Linked DNA regions of Homo sapiens. The protein of the gene in region 1 interacts with the protein of each later gene in a pairwise test. Each region holds a gene or a part of one and is shown on either strand. Other genes may lie near its edges.

Region 1 (3,652 bases):
GGCTGAGGCGGGCGGATCACTTGAGGCCGGGAATTCAAGACCAGCCTGGCCAACATGGGGAAACCCCATCTCTACTAAAAATCCCAAAATCAGCTGGGCTTGGGGGCAGGTGCCTGTAATCCCAACTATGGGGGAAGCCGAGGTGAGAGGATCGCTTGAACTCCTGAGGCGGAGGTTGCAGTGAGTCGAGATCGTGCCACTGCACTCCAGCCTGGGCAACACAGTGAGGCCCTGTCTCAAAAAAAAAAAAAAAAAAAAAAAAAAAGTCTGTTTTGACTCAAAGCCCCAAAGTGAAGGGCAGTGCCCCCTAGGGGTGAGCTGAGGAGCACCAGGCAGGAATAGGAAGGCAGGGGGCGCCATCTCAGTGGCTTCTTAGCTAAGCCCACCCTGGCCACCTTCATCTAAAACTGCGGTCTCCAACTAACCCTGCCTCCCCGCACTGAGGCCCCCAGCCTGAGTAATGGGGAAGGGCCTTGAAGAAGAAAACCTGGCCCTGTGAGGTCGCAGAGGATGCTGCTCTAGCATGGCGTTGGGGGTGGGGTAACAGGGTCTGTTGACTCACACTGGGCTAGGGCTGACGCCAATACAAGAAATAAAATCAACATGCCAGGTGCGGGTGGCTCACATCTGTAATCCTATCACTTTGGGAGGCTGATTAGGCGGATCACCTGAGGTTGGGAGTTCAAGACCAGCCTGACCAACAAGGAGAAACCCCGTCTCTACTAAAAATACAAACTTAGGTGGGCGTGGTGGTGCATGCCTGTAATTCCAGCTACCCCAGAGGCTGGGGCAGGAGAATCACTTGAACCCGGGAGGCGGAGGTAGTGGTGACCCAAGATTGCGCCATTGCACTCCAGCCTGGACAAACAAGAGTGAAACTCCGTCTCAAAAAAAAAAAAAAAAAAAAAAAATCAACACGTGTGGATGCTTTCTGCACATCAGAGGCACCACCTACATGATCCTATTTAGCCCTTGCTATGGAGGAGGGCACAATACCTATTTTCCCGCTGGAGAAGCCCAGGTCAAGGAACAAGTCTGAGATCACAAGGCTAACAAGTGTCGAAGCTGTGGCTAAAATCCAAGCCTCTTAACTGCAGAGTCTAGGGCATCAGCAGAGATTTCCATTTTTCTTCTCTTCACCATCACAGCAAAATTTTTTGTCAAAGGAATTCTTACGTAGAGACCTATCATACGGAACAGTTAAAAGTAGGCCTTCGTGAAGAGGATGGACGTAAAACTCCCCCCAAATCGGCCTCCTCTTAATTTTCCTCTCCAGGTATGCACCCCAAGCCCTCAGTGGCCCCCAAGGCAGCTCCACGGAATACCACCCGCAGGTTTCAAAGTCACTGGCCCCCGGCTGCTGCTGTCACTGAGAGCTCATAGCCAAACCCCTAAGACAGTATTTCCTTGGCCCTGCACTCACCTGCTCTGAGGTGAGAGGGAGAGATGGGGAGCAGAAACACTTCTTCCCTATCCACAGGCCAGTGGGGGAACCCAGGTCCTTCCCCTCCTACCCTGCCCAAGGCCCAGCTTATGGGGGTCCTGGGACACCTCGGATCCCTGTTGCAGCTCAAGACCCAATTAGGAAGGAGCCAGGTTTCTTTGTGCATTACCAGAAACTGCCCCTCAGGACCAGAAGGCTACAGCCACATAACTGGAGGACTAAGTGGGACCAGGCTTCCTGAGAGCTGTGTTTCCTGAGAGCTGTGTGCAGAGGCGAAGCTGATCTGACCGGCAAGGTGAGGACAGAGGGCAGCTACAGAGACGTCCAAGGTTTGCAGGGACCAGTTCTGCAGTAGCATTTGCCAGTCACCTACTCCAAATATCCACTCTCTGCTTCCTCCTTGTAACTGAACCACTGTTTTTTGGGTAGGCACTTGGGTGCCTGAAATAAAAATTACTCTTCCCTAAGTTCTCTTTCCTGCCTGCCTTTCAGCTAGTGTGACCACATGCTAAGTTCTGTTCAACAAAATGTGACTAGAAGTGTCACATGTGGTTTCTGGGAGGCACACTCTAAAGAGGAGCCACATGCTTCTTGTTCCTTCCTTTTTCCTGATGGCTGGAACTCCAGCAGCCACCTTGGACCACGAGGCCACGTGTGAATGATGGCAGAACCACTATACCACCCCTCTGAAGTTCTATGATATGAGAGAGATATAACTGATGCCTGTCTTATTTAATCCACTACTCTTTTTTGTTGCTATGAGCAGCCAAATCAAGTTCTAACAAACACAAGCCCCAATCCTCAGCTGAAGGATCCTTTGGGTGGGGACAGCACAGGAGACATGGCCCCCTCCTGCTTCCTACCAGGAATCCCTGCTCCTTCCTGCCCATATGCCCCCAGGACCTAGGCCGGCCCCCACCTGCCACCTCTTTCTTGAATCAGGTAGCCTTGCATTTACAGAGCACAGGCTGGCAGGCAAGTTCTAAGCCAGCCCTGACACCTACTCACTTACTAACTCATTCATTCAACCTATATTTATGGAACAGCTACTTTGAGCTAAGTGCTATTCTAGGTGCTGTGGCTACAGCACAATGGAAGTCCCTGCCCTCATGGAACTTACAGTCTAACGGGGAAGAGACAGACAAACAAACAAACCAATGAACACATATCAGGTGACGAGTGCTATGGAGAAAATAAAGGCGAGTAGGAGGAAAAGAGTGTGCTGGGGGGGAGGGGTTTCTAAGCAGAGCAGCCCCGGTAGGCCTCTTTGAGAAAGTGGCATTCATGGGGAGAGCTGAAGGAAGTGAGGGAGTGAACCACGTACATATTGGGAGAAGAGCTGGTTGTATGATCTACTGCAAGTCCTTGCATCTGTGCCTCAGTTTCTCCTCTCTGGAATGGTCTGTGAGATAAAGGTCATGCAAAGGCAGGCTACCCCAGCTGGAGGGCTCTGTGGTTCCAATCAGTGTGTTGGGAGTAGGTTGGCATGGGAACCTGGCTGGATGGAGACCAAAGGGACTCAGTCCTCAGGCAGAGCTCCATGAATTTCAGGTAAGAAGGAGCTGTGGCTTCAGCCTCACACACAGCCAGTATGTTCAAAAATTACAGAGTGCCCTCCTCACCGGCTTGCTTAACTGCCGTCCCTTCTACTCTGATCAGGGTCAGGTAGCTGGAAGGTTAAGAAATCAGACAGCGTAGACCCCAGGTCAGTCCACACATCCCTAGGGGCCTGGCTCTGGGAGGTCCCTGCACCCCAATCCAGGGCCAGATAGCAAGCCTCTCTCAGCCGCTCCTTAGAATTCTCTTCCCCCTGAGTGGAGGCACATACATAGCCTTCTGGCCATGACAATTGGTGGACGAGGTGCCACCCTACACCCTGGTCCTCGGAAGTGTGAGGTGGCTTATTCCCAAGGGGAATAAGGCTACAAAAGAAGAGAGGGTGGTGGTGATATATGTCGGGGAAGGGGGTGGGGATGGTTGGAGGTGGCCCAGGGGCCAACCTTAGCTGGGGGACCCTCTTAGCTGAGGGTCTGTGCTTGCTGCTGCTCCAGCGATTCAGGGCAGGGCCAGGACTCAGAGACAATGCAAGAGCTTGGGATGCGGGAGATGTGGGCAAGGGCCACTGATGAATCTGCAGCTGAACGCTGCATTTTGTGCAGCCAATTATCCCGCAAACATTTCTTAACCACCTATTTGGCTAGAGGCTGT
Region 2 (3,652 bases), on another chromosome or scaffold:
GGTCGAGGCAGCAGTGAGCCGTGCTCTCACCACTGTGCTCTAGCCTGGGTGACAAAACTCCTGTTTTTGGTGGGGGGAAAAAAAAGAAAAGATTTATTTGAGTATGTTATAGATGTAACTGGGAAGCTGGTGGTTGAGGGAATAAGTATAGGTAGGGTATTTATTTATGGCAATAAGTAGCCTTGATGAGAGTTTATCATGAATCACTGTGATGGGCATTTAAGTGTACTGAACGGTTTTCCAGGTTTCTATTGTTCAGTCTTATGCTTATTGTGCATGTTTTGGGCGTTACCAACTGTGGGGTGGAAATAGCATTTTTAGGATTTGAAGTTATTGGCTTTAATGTTTCACTTATGCTTCATGAATTTTGATTTATATATGAATTGAGTCTCCTCCTCCTATGACCTGCGGAGTGGCTGCTTGGTTTGGGAGGCTTAGAAGCGTGGTGCTGTTGGTGTAGGTCCATCTGTTTGGCAATATTCAGAGTCAGCATCCTCTGCATTCTTTGTGAAGTGAATGTAAAGCTGCTCTTTTCCTTTTTCAGATGCCCCACAACCTTGTGGTCTTAATTTTAGAGTGTCATTTTGTTATCAGTGATTCATTTCTTTTGTTCTGGTGCTTGTGTTCTTTTGCAGAGTCCCAGGGTAGATGTAATTATAGATCATGTATTCTATAAGTGAGCTTTGGTGGAAAAGTCAAGTGAGGGATAATGAAATATTTGTAATTAACGTTTAATAAAAAGGGTGTTTGAAGTGGTGCTAATAAACAAGTGTGTGTGTATGTGTGTATTTTAATTCTGAAAATCTTAAAATGCTACAAGAAAGTCCAGAGAACAGTACAACAAACATCATTGTATTCCAGAACTAACAAATGTTAACATTTGAGATATTTCCCTTTCCTCTAAAAACAAAACAAAACAAAACCAACATCGCTACATTTAAAGTCTTTTTTGTGCCCCTCTGGTCCCATTCTTCCTTCTCCTGGGGCAAACACTAACCTGTATTTTGCATGCCCTCTTGTGTCTAGGCTTCTTTTCTGAGCTTAAAACTTCCAGGAAACTGGAGCTTGGGTTTCAGTGATGACTTAAGTGAGGAGGATAACACTTGTCTTTCTAAATAATAGAAGATGACATAGCAAGGCATGCTATATCACTAGAAAAGGGGGCATTTTCTCATATGAAGTTTATAAGAAAACAAAAACTGTAAGATCTCTGCCATTTAAATTGTGGATTTCAAGGTTTGGAAGGTCAAAGAATTTGGAAGCTGCAGCTGTTCTGAGAGACCATCTTGTGCTCTGTGGAGCTTTGGTGATTCCACTGAGGTGACCTGGGGGTGAGAGGGAAGAGCTTCAACACACCTTCCTTCCCCCATCCAAAGTAGCTCTGCTTTTGTTTTACTGTTGAATTTCTTGAATAAAATTCACTTGTTACAGAGGGTGTTTTGGCTAACACCTCCCCTCCCCCAAACACTACCAATAACTAGTTCAACTGCTAATCTAGTTCAACCATCTCATTTAATGAAGAAACTGAAGCCTGAGTTTTTTGGTCTACTTGTAGTTTTCTTGATTGAAGAATGTTTCTATCTTTTTTTTTTTTTTTTTGTACAGTCTCGCTCTGTTGCCCAGGCTGGAGGGCAGTGGCGCAATCTTGGCTCATTGCAACCTCCACCTCCCGGGTTCAAGCGATTCTCCTGCCTCAGCCTCCTGAGTAGCTGGAATTACAGGCATCCGCCACTACGCCTGGCTAATTTTTGTATCTTTAGTAGAGACTGGGTTTCACCATAATGGCCAGGCTGGTCTCAAACTCCTGACCTCAGGTGATCCGCCCGTCTCAGCCTCCCAAAGTGCTGGAATTACAAACGTGAGCTGCTGTGCCTGGCCTCATCATTTTTTTAACTATGGTTGTTAACCAGGTGTGTGCATTAGAATCACCTGGGGAACTTAAAAAAAAAAAAAAATACACCTATCTGGGCCCTACCATAGAGATTGTGGTTCAGTAGGTCGGGGTGGGAGATCCAGACACATAGTAGTCCCTTGGTATCTGTGGGGGTTTGGTTCCAGGACACCTGCAGATATCAGAATCCACAGTTGCTCAACTTCCTTATATAAAATGGCATAGTATTTGCATATAACCTTAGCACATTGCATAATATATACTTGAAAACATCTCTAGATTACTTATCATACCTCTAGATTACTCTAGATATATCTCTAGATTACTTATCATACCTGATCCAATGTAAATGCTACATAAATAGTTGTTACACTGTATTGTTTTATTTATATCTTTCTTTATTTTTTTCTGACTGTTTTTGATCCATAGTTTGTTGAATCCATGGATGCAGAACCCATGGATAAGGAGGGCCGACTGTATTTTAAATGTCTCTAGTGATTCCGATGCTCCTTCCTTGGCCCCCACTCCTCCCCCTGTTGAGAAACAAGATTTAAAACTCTGCCTTATGCTGGGATATCATGACCTCAGTAGAATGTTACACTTCATCCTATTTCTTCATCAGGTTCTGCATTAGCCAGGCATTTTATTTTCAGCTACTCTAGAGCGTCTTTTTTTCTGTCAGGTGTTTTTTTCCAGTATAGGAAAGTAGCCCATTTCCTTTAAAGACCACCCAGCAGGCATGATCCCCTGAGGTGTTTTTTTGTTGAGTGCTTTTGCATACTTAAGGAGTAACTGACCTGGCCCGGTGGCTCACGCCTGTAATCCCAGCACTTTGGAAAGCTGAGGTGGGCGGATCACCTGGCGGTCGGGAGTTCGAGACCAGCCTGACCAACATGGAGAAACCCCCGTCTCTACTAAAAATACAAAATTAGTCGGGCGTGGTGGCGGGTGCCTGTAATCCCAGCTACTCGGGAGGCTGAGGCAGGAGAATTGCTTGAACCCGGGAGGCAGAGCTTGCGGTAAGCTGAGACAGTGCCATTGCACTCCAGCCTGGGCATCAAGAGTAAAACTCTGTCTCAAAAAAAAAAAAAAAAAAAAAAGGCAGTGGAGACATTTGTGATGATCTTCAGGTTTTTTTTTTTTTTTTTAAGGGAGGGCATAATAGTGGCATATTACCCTAGCACACCCTGCCCATTGGCCTGGCATCATGGAAAGGTGCCTGGTCTATTTTATGGAGGCAATCATAAAACTGGGTGTGGTGATTTTTGTTGTTGTTTAAGGCTTTGATTTTAAAAAATCAAGGTTGGAAGCACCTATTTAGATTGTAAACTAGAGAGGACAAAGGAAAGAAGCCTGGGAATGTTATGGTGAGAAAAGAGGACTAGAATCCCTGTCAGCCACCTATGTGGCTGCTGCCACCCCTAAAAAGTGTTGTGAGTGCACCAAGGACAAATGGCATGCTCTTCGTTATTAGTGAGCTATTAACCTCTTCCAGTTCTTTCTCCTACCTTGGTGAACCGGCCTGTATCTTGTGTGTTCCGAGGGCCCCTCTTTCCCCTCTAGCGCTAGACCCAGTTTGCCTTTTTGGTTTGGTTCCATCCTGTTTCCTCCATAACCTCCACCCCTCCCAAGTTGGAGGAGCCCCAATATCTGGGATTTACAGTAACTCTAAGGCCAGGAATAAAGATCATAGAGATTGGAGGGAGAAAAGCTTCCCCTCTTCAGTTCTATTTATAATACCTCTACTTCTACTAAAAGCTC
Region 3 (2,682 bases), on another chromosome or scaffold:
CCCATGGGTTCCAGGGGCCCGTGGCTGGCTTGGTTTCCTTCCCCAGGGGCCCCTGAGTTCAGTCCTGTCCGTCTCCAGCAGACACCGGCTTCCCAGGGGTGGGAGGCTCCCCTGAGTTCAGTCCTGTCTGTCTCCAGCAGACGCCGGCTCCCTGGGGGCGGGAGGCTCCGGGCCTCCCCAGAGGTGTTTCCATTCTGCTCCCATGTGGCCTCTTCATTTTGTCGTTGTCCCCTCCTCATATACACTCTCTTTCATTTTTAAACCATAATTACTGTAGACAAATTTAAAATACAAAAATGTTAAAAAGCAGCAAGAACAATCTTAATCTTTTTTTTTTTTTTTTGAGACCGTCCTGCTCTGTCCCCCCGGCTGGAGGGCAGTGGTGCAGTCACGTCTCACTGCAGCCTCAACCTCCTGGGCTCAAGCGATCCTCCCGCCTCGGCCTCCCAAAGTGTGAGCCGTGCATTCAGCCCAACCTTAATCTTCTCACCCAGAGCCACCAACATTAATATTTTGGCCGCCTTTTCTTCCAGTCTTCCCTTTTTTTTTTAAATAAGCTTTTATTTATTTTTCCTTTTCTTTTTTTAATAGTTGAGGTGGATTTTTTACCACCGTAACCTCATACACAAAGTACCACCATACTGTAGACCCTTCTAGGTCATGGCGATGTTCTCTGCGCCACCAGCCACACGTGGCCCCGAGTGTGTGGAACGCTTCTGGTGCAGCTGTGGCTCTGACGTTCGTTGAAATAGCCGCTGTGGCCCCTGGCTGTCCACTCTGGGCCTCTCCTGCTGCCTGGAGTGTGTGGTGCAGCCTTGGTCCCCACCTGCGCTCTGACAGCCTTCATGTCTGTCCCCTTCCAGCTGCTCCCGGTGTGACCGCGTCCTTCCCTGGCCGACCCGAAGGAAGCCTTCTGGTTGTCTGCCACTTCCTCCTGTTGGACTGCCTGAGAGAGGGGAAGAGAGAGACCTCGGACCTGCATGTCAAGATGGATTTTCCCCTTTTATCTCTGCCCTCCTCCACTCCCTTTTTGTAACTCCCTTACAGCCCCCAGACCCTTCTTGAAACGAGAGCCAGCAAGCTGAGCACAGACCAGCAGCGACCTCCCTTCCAGCCCCCAGAAAGCTCGGTCACTTGAGTGTTTTCTAGAATCCTGGGGTGCTCCCGGGCCGCTCTCAGAGAAGTGGCAGGTTTCACGTTCAGCCGTGTGGCGGATCGTGTGGCTTCCAAAGCCTTTTACAGCCCCCGCCCCCCATCCCGTGGTCTGTCTGCAGGAACTCTCCCGTCTGTGAGAAGCCTCTTTCCGAGTCGACCTCCCGGCCACCCCGGCCCTGTGCCTGCTCGGAAGAGCTCACTGCCAGCTGCGGCCTGGGCACCGCGGGCCATGTGTGTTTGCATGAGGAACTCTTTAGTGGCAGACACCTAAGAGACGGCTGCGGTCACCCCACGCCTCCGCGGCTCAGGAGCCGTCCTGGGTGCATAGGACCAGTTTCTGTGACTTTTCTCCAGTTGGGCATGTTGACAGACATGTTTCCCCTCCTCCCACCCTCATTTTCTGGTCCTCGCGACTGAGAGCCAGGGGCGACATCATGACCTTCTGTCCCGGCCGCCTTAGCCCCGGGCACAGGGAAGGCAGCTGGGCCGTTTCTGTCTGTGTCCCATCCTGCTGTCCTTCTGTCCTGGATGTTTCATGGGCCCGGGGCCCCCCAGGGAAGCTTACCCCTCCTGTGCTGGGTGGAGGCCACGGGACACCTCAGGTGCCACCCACCTTGGCCCTAAAACAGCCACCAGGAAAGCAGCCGGAGAGCCGGACAGCAGGCAGCCTGTCTGGGTTCCTGAGGCCTGGGGGTGGCAGACGAGCCCACGGCGCCGTGGTCCCAGCAGCAGGGTTGTCAGTCGGAGCATCCTGGGGCTCCCTGGCTCCTGGCCGTCTGTGAGGTAGGCGCAGTACCGTGTATCGTAGGTAGCAGTAGGAACGGGGGCCGCCGCGGCCCTGCAGCCGCTCATGGCGGTGAGGTGTGTGCCAAGCCCACCCGGGGTGCAGGGCGTGACGTGTGGGGAATAAATAGGCGTTGTGACCTCTGTCTGTCTTCGTGTTGACCTTGGCGCCACCGATACCCTCCAACCCCAAACCTCGAGAAAACCCCCGACGCGGAGTTTGTGGATCAGCTGGGCTGCTTGTGAGTGAATCCCCGCGACGCCGGAGCCGCACTTCTTGGGTCACGGGTCACGGGTCATGGGAGGTTTCGGACAGTCAGCCTCTACCCTCTGCTGTCTCCCTTCCCTCCGCCTCCGTCCCCAGCTGCATCCCGGTGTAGAGGGTCACCCCAGGGTGGGGTGAGATGCCTCGGTCCTCAGCAGAGAGTGATCGTATTGTCTGTTGCTTTGCTTTGCTTTTTTTTTTTTTTTGAGACTTTCACCCTAGATGCCCAGGCTGGAGTGCAATGGCGCAATCTCGGCTCACCTCAACCTCCACCTCCCGGGTTCAAGTGATTCTCCTGCGTCAGCCTTCCAAGTAGCTGGGATTACAGGCATGCACCACCACGCCCAGCTAATTTTTTGTATTTGTAGTAGAGACGAGGTTTCTCCATGTTGGTCAGGCTGGTCTCAAACTCCCAACCTCAGGTGATTTGCCTCAGCCTTCCAAAGTGCAGGGATTACAGGCGTGAGCCACCGCACCTG

Evidence for each region.
Region 2: the proteins of PODXL (region 1) and IQGAP1 interact in binary tests that used the Homo sapiens proteins (3 or more experiments, as listed by UniProt).
Region 3: the proteins of PODXL (region 1) and SGTA interact in a two-hybrid assay, tested with the Homo sapiens proteins (one large-scale study listed by BioGRID).

The regions. Positions count from the first base shown.
Region 1 is NC_000007.14:131,546,488-131,550,139, forward strand, and holds part of PODXL (podocalyxin isoform 1 precursor), read right to left. Parts: intron 1-3,652. UniProt on the Homo sapiens protein: Involved in the regulation of both adhesion and cell morphology and cancer progression. Functions as an anti-adhesive molecule that maintains an open filtration pathway between neighboring foot processes in the podocyte by charge repulsion.
Region 2 is NC_000015.10:90,391,167-90,394,818, forward strand, and holds part of IQGAP1 (ras GTPase-activating-like protein IQGAP1), read left to right. Parts: intron 1-3,652. UniProt on the Homo sapiens protein: Plays a crucial role in regulating the dynamics and assembly of the actin cytoskeleton.
Region 3 is NC_000019.10:2,754,115-2,756,796, reverse strand, and holds the end of SGTA (small glutamine-rich tetratricopeptide repeat-containing protein alpha), read left to right. Parts: intron 1-863; 3' UTR 864-2,082; downstream 2,083-2,682. UniProt on the Homo sapiens protein: Co-chaperone that binds misfolded and hydrophobic patches-containing client proteins in the cytosol. Mediates their targeting to the endoplasmic reticulum but also regulates their sorting to the proteasome when targeting fails.